2 separate regions of the Homo sapiens genome follow, and region 2 is reported to be linked to region 1. Evidence: microRNA targets listed by miRTarBase, many of them from high-throughput screens and not tested one by one. Region 1 holds a microRNA gene; the other region holds the end of a gene's coding sequence.
The links. The annotated mature microRNA hsa-miR-6812-5p reads AUGGGGUGAGAUGGGGAGGAGCAGC and lies in region 1 at 1,714-1,738, shown strand. An mRNA with a match to its seed (bases 2 to 7 or 8) in the 3' UTR can be bound and repressed. Matches are read on the target gene's strand: a 7mer-m8 pairs with bases 2 to 8, a 7mer-A1 pairs with bases 2 to 7 and ends in A, and an 8mer does both.

Region 1 (3,148 bases):
TAACACACCCCTCCTCTCCTATATTTCTTGTGTGTTGGTGGTTAGATTTAGAAACCTGATTAGATTCATGTCCCACATTTTTGGCAAGAAAAATTCCCAGGTGGTTCTGTGAACTTCTTCTTGCGTCACATCAGGCACTTGGTGTCTGGTGCCCCAGTTGTAGTGATGTGAAGATTGATTAGCCATCTGCAGCACTCCTAACAACCTCTCTTGATCGCATCCTGGGATCACTGCCCTGGAAACATCCTCTCCCTTTTCTTAGCCCCTGCTTTCTTCCCTTGCCTGCCTGGCTTCTATGCTCCCAAGCCCATCTTCTAGGCACCCAGATTGAGGCTCCATGGCAAGCAGCAGGGACAGGGGCAGCAGGTAGCCTGACCCCAGGAAAGAGATGTGGGTGACCTTGCATGTCTCCAGGTTACATCCACTACCAGCCTGCCCAGGACCGGCTGCAACCCCACCTCCTGGAGATGCTGATTCAGCTGCCGGCCAACTCAGTCACCAAGGTTTCCATCCAGTTTGAGCGGGCGCTGCTGAAGTGGACCGAGTACACGCCAGATCCTAACCATGGCTTCTATGTCAGGTGGGCTCCACCCCCACAGGCCACCTCTCATCCCCCTGACCTACCCTTTCTGCTGCTTACCCCTTGATAGGGCAGCCAGATGGGAACACGGGCCATCTCTCTGCTTCTCTGTAGCCCATCTGTCCTCAGCGCCCTTGTGCCCAGCATGGTAGCAGCCAAGCCAGTGGACTGGGAAGAGAGTCCCCTCTTCAACAGCCTGTAAGTGTGACCACACTCACTGATAACACATCCTCAGCTGCCTGCTGGGCCTTAACACAGGTGACCAGGCTCCTGCAGGGGAGTTCAGGGTAGATGTTACATCTTCCAAAGAGATGTGTAGATTTAATTCAATCCTAATAAAAATCCTGGCAGTCTGTGGAATTTGTGAAGACTTTATAAAATGATTTTAAAGTGCTTCTAGAAGAATACTTTTACTTACAGCCTACATTTACTTCTTGATGCTCTTAAATATTTAATCAAGCACTTATCAAATGCCAAGTGCTTCTGAGAGCACTGAGTGTGCAAGATTAAACAAAACAGACTTGGCCCTGGCCTCCCTTTGCTTACAGTCTAGAAGGAAGATTCTGGTCTAGAGAGTAATGGGGTTAGAGGTTGGGTAGGAATTGATTTACTGGGTTATCTAGGAAGGCTTCATTTAGGAGGTGGCATTTAGGCTGAAACCAGGCTAAGAAAGAAGCAACCAAGCAAAGGCGGGGCCCCTTTCCTCCACCTCAACACCAGGCGTCTCTCTTTCTTTCCTTTCTCTCTCTTTCTTTCTTTCTCTTTCTTTCTTTCTTTCTTTCTTTCTTTCTTTCTTTCTTTCTTTCTTTCTTTCTTTCTTTCTTTCTCTTTCTTTCTTTCTTATTTATTTTTTATTTTACTTTAAGTTCTGGGATACATGTGCAGAACATACAGGTTTGTTACATAGGTATATATGTGCCACGGTGGTTTGCCGTACCCATCAACCCATCATCTAGGTTTTAAGCCCCGCATGCATTAGGTATTTGTCCTAATGCTCTCCCTCCCCTTGCCCCCCGCCCGCCGCTCCCCTTTATCAGGTTTAGAGATTGAGCTATGCCTTCTGTTGAAAGGTTTTGAGCCTAAGAGAACATTGGAAACACTGTGTTGCATTGCCCAATACTGCCGGAATGAGGATGGGGTGAGATGGGGAGGAGCAGCCAGTCCTGTCTCACCGCTCTTCCCCTGACCCCAGGTTCCCAGTCTCTGATGGCTCTAACTACTTTGTGCGGCTCTACACGGAGCCGCTGCTGGTGAACCTGCCGACACCGGACTTCAGCATGCCCTACAACGTGATCTGCCTCACGTGCACTGTGGTGGCCGTGTGCTATGGCTCCTTCTACAATCTCCTCACCCGAACCTTCCACATCGAGGAGCCCCGCACAGGTGGCCTGGCCAAGCGGCTGGCCAACCTTATCCGGCGCGCCCGAGGTGTCCCCCCACTCTGATTCTTGCCCTTTCCAGCAGCTGCAGCTGCCGTTTCTCTCTGGGGAGGGGAGCCCAAGGGCTGTTTCTGCCACTTGCTCTCCTCAGAGTTGGCTTTTGAACCAAAGTGCCCTGGACCAGGTCAGGGCCTACAGCTGTGTTGTCCAGTACAGGAGCCACGAGCCAAATGTGGCATTTGAATTTGAATTAACTTAGAAATTCATTTCCTCACCTGTAGTGGCCACCTCTATATTGAGGTGCTCAATAAGCAAAAGTGGTCGGTGGCTGCTGTATTGGACAGCACAGAAAAAGATTTCCATCACCACAGAAAGGTCGGCTGGCAGCACTGGCCAAGGTGATGGGGTGTGCTACACAGTGTATGTCACTGTGTAGTGGATGGAGTTTACTGTTTGTGGAATAAAAACGGCTGTTTCCGTGGTTCTTTGCCTCTTGTCCTTGAGTCCTGGGAAGAGCTGGGGACTGGGGATTGTTTGCTGAGTGCCTGAACAGGACCTCCTACCCTATGCCTGCAACCCCCTCCACAAAAAACAAAAAACCCTACCTCCTCCCACCTGGCCGGAAATTTCTTCTCCTGATCTGCTCCCCCTGTCCTCCCCATCCCCATCTGATTGTGATTCCCAGAACTCCCCGGGTTGTTTGGGAGTGTTTCTGAAAGCATAATCCATGGCCATGGAAATGAATCATCCTACTTCTTGGGGGCATTGAGAGTCAGTCCACATCAGCAAGGGTAGAGTGGAGAGGTGGGAGGGCTCTGGGTGGTGGGTCTCTAACTGTAGTGTGCATCAGAGTCACTGGGGGCACTTGTGAAAATAATGTATGTTCCTGGGGTCCAGATCCTACTAATTCAGTTGGTCTGGGTGTGGCCCAGACTTTGACTTTTTAGCAGGCTTCTCAGGAGCTCCTGCTGTGCTCTGTCCTCAGACCACCCCCAGGCTTTGAAGCCAGGCTCATTGGATTGAAGCCCGCCCCGCCCACCTCCCTTGCTGGTTACATAACCCTGGATTTCTGTAAAACAAGCCTTTAGGCGGTTGCCTCCCACTGCCCTCATCTTCTGTCTTTTCCTCTGGCACACTTGGCATCAACTGTGTGTTATTTGCAGTTCCCCCCACCTCCTACCCCACTCAG
Region 2 (3,000 bases), not on the chromosome of region 1:
TTGGCCCCCTGGGGTGTCCCTGACCCCTGGGTCACCCTGTAGACTGGGTGTCCCCTCAACCCCCTGGGTGCCCCCTGAGCCCCAGGCCTCCCCGCCGACTGCCTGGGGGTCCCCTTAGCCCCCTGGGTGCCCCTGAGCCCCAGGTCTCCCCGCTGTCTAAGCCCCAGGCCTCCCCACTGACTGAGCCCAGGTCGCCGCCCTCCCCACCGCTGACCGCCTGCTTGTGTCTCCACAGCATCAAGATGGTGCTCATGTGGACCAGTGGTGACGCCTTCAAGACGGCCTACTTCCTGCTGAAGGGTGCCCCTCTGCAGTTCTCCGTGTGCGGCCTGCTGCAGGTGCTGGTGGACCTGGCCATCCTGGGGCAGGCCTACGCCTTCGCCCGCCACCCCCAGAAGCCGGCGCCCCACGCCGTGCACCCCACTGGCACCAAGGCCCTCTGACAGTGGGGAGGACGAGGATGTGGGACCGCCAGCCGCGGGCACTGGTGGGCCCTGACCTCCCCGCGGGGAGGGTGGGTGCTGTGGCCCCTGCAGGTGTGGCAGAGATGGGGCATGGGCATTGGGGTCTCCATCAGCCTCTGTGGGGTGTCTCAGGGTGGGCAGTGGGGGTGGGGCTGGGACGCTGTTTGTGCTCAGCGGGGACAGCCAGGGTTGATCTGGCCCCGAGGGTTTTGGATGTTTTTAGGATGACATAAAAAGCAAGTGTTTTCCCCATTTCCTCTTATGAAACACCGTCTGAGCCCAAGGTACACATTGGGCGGCCTGCAGGAACCTGCTCCAGGTGGACACACGGGCCAGCAGCCGCGAACCTTGAAGCTGGGGTGACCGCAGGAGACCCTGTAAGGCCTGTGAGCGGAGCCCTCGACCCCGTGACACCCTGGCCAGACACCCTGCTTGGACTGGGGTGGCCTCTGCTACCCAGGGGTCTGGCACGGGGGAGGGCTGGGGCTTTCTCTGCCTGGTACACACGGAAAGGCGGCTGTGCGGACGCAGGGTCACCGTGCTCCGGGTTTTCTGACAGTCGGTGTTTCCTGGGCCTTTGGAGTGGCTGCGAGGCCTGAACGCCTTGTGGATCCGCTGTGTCCAGCCCGGCTGAGCATCGCCAGGGCTAGCTCATGCTGCTCTTGTCAGCCTCTGGTTCTCCTCGAGTCCTTGGGGACGTGGCAGATGCCAGCGACCATCAGACAACGTGGAGGCCCTCATGGGCAATGGCTGAGGGGGCCGGGCTGAGGCTGTGCACATGCAGTCTGCACGCCACTCTTGGGCTCTGCTGGCGGAGATCCCCTTCCTTCTGGGTGCAGACTGCACCTCCGGATGCAGTTTTGATGTCCATCTTCCAGGAGAGACGGTCTCGGGTCCAGGGAGTGGAGGGGGCTGCCCCTGCCGTGCAGGTCCTGGCCGATGGCGCCTTACCCTGCTGCCCTGGGCTTTTGGCCTGAAGCAAATTCCTGAGTGGGGGGTACTGGGGCCTGCCGCATCCTGTCCTGTCCACTGCCCACCCCCGTGTGCTGGCTCCCTCACTTCTGGCTGCAGTGGGAGCCGCCAGTCTGACCCTTGTCACCGCACGCTCTGCCCCCACCCCGTTGCAAGAGGTCACACCATGTCAGCAGCCTTGCACTGACCGCAGCCGGCCCCCAGGCCTCAGAGTTCTGGATGCTTCCGTGCGGCTCCAACAGGCATCGTCTTCCCTTCCGCAGGTGGAGGGGCCGCTTCCCGCAGGCATCTGAGCTCTGTGCCGGGGCCGTGGCCATGGGAAGATGTTCCACGCTGCCTCCTCCTCGAGTTTTCCTCGGAAACACTCTTGAATGTCTGAGTGAGGGTCCTGCTTAGCTCTTTGGCCTGTGAGATGCTTTGAAAATTTTTATTTTTTTAAGATGAAGCAAGATGTCTGTAGCGGTAATTGCCTCACATTAAACTGTCGCCGACTGCAGGCGCAGTGACTGCTGAATGTACCCTGTGTGGCGACTTGGAATCAATAAACCATTTGTGGATCCTGAGTTGGCCTTGGGCAGAGGGAAGGATCTGGCTGTGGTCCTGGCCTCTGCCCAGACACACCCTTGTAGCCTGGGCCACCTTAGAAGGCCCCTGTGTGACCTGGGTTCCTCCAGGGCCCCAAACAACAGCCCAGCCCCCTCGACCTGTCACTGGCCTGTGCCTGTGGGCCGGCAGCCCGGGGGTCCTTTTGGCTCCTCACAGACGGGTCTGGCACTGCCTCTAGCTGCCCTGGCCACATCCGCCCTTCTGCCTCCCACCACCGAAGGCTTAGAGCATGGGAAGGGTCTCCTGTAAAGGCCAAGAGAAGTGTTTCCAGATTTGCGATCTTGGAGCAGCACATACAGATGGAGCTGTGTGTGCATAGCGATTTTTTCTGTGCAGTTTACATTGAAGGCAAGATGTTTCTTTGTCCAGTAAAAAACCAGGTGTGTGGGTGCAGGGCAGGATTTGGGTTGAAGGGCCCATCTGGGTACTAGGAGAGGGCACAGGCCACGTCCAGGCAGCAGCCTGGGGGAAGACTGGAGATGATGAAGGCTAGCGTGTCTGGAACGTCTCAGATGCAAATCGCCCTCCTCAAGTGCTGGCGGGCGGTGCCAGATGAACCCGAGATCTAGCGCAGGGATGGGGTTGTGTGTCTTCAGGGTGTGGAGACAGGCGGTTCTTGGGGACCACTCTGGGTTTTAACAGGAAATGGGAGCAAGGTCTCAGCCCCGCACTGCAGGGGCCGTGGCAGGTGGGGGCAGCGGTGGAAATAGCTGCGTTTCTGAACTCTCAGGTCACTGCCACCCTGTGATGCCTTCTGATGGTTTTAAGCAACAAAGAAGCACCAAGGAAGCAGGAGGCCGAGGAGGGCTCCCAGTGAGGGCCCCTCCGTGGGAGAGAGCGGGTTGTGAGAGCCTGGGAAGTTCACATTCCCCTCACCCCATGAGGAAACTGAGACCTGCCCTGAGCCCCAGCCCTGTGCCCTTCCCAGGGGCTTGTGTGAGAGAGCGGCCCACTGGGC

Region 2: miRTarBase lists SLC66A2 as a target of hsa-miR-6812-5p. The part of its 3' UTR that is shown has no 7-base or 8-base seed match.

The regions. Positions count from the first base shown.
Region 1 is chr20:45,423,802-45,426,949 of GRCh38, forward strand. MIR6812 (microRNA 6812) reads left to right here and starts at 1,709; the gene lies at 1,709-1,772. PIGT (phosphatidylinositol glycan anchor biosynthesis class T) reads left to right here. Exons shown (of 12, transcript NM_015937.6): 10 at 415-580; 11 at 695-778; 12 at 1,773-2,440. The coding sequence ends at 2,025.
Region 2 is chr18:79,901,419-79,904,418 of GRCh38, reverse strand. SLC66A2 (solute carrier family 66 member 2) reads left to right here. Exons shown (of 6, transcript NM_025078.5): 6 at 236-1,999. The coding sequence ends at 443. Among named protein-coding and RNA genes, the nearest start is that of SLC66A2, 49 kb to the left of the region's middle. RefSeq lists an enhancer at 1-252.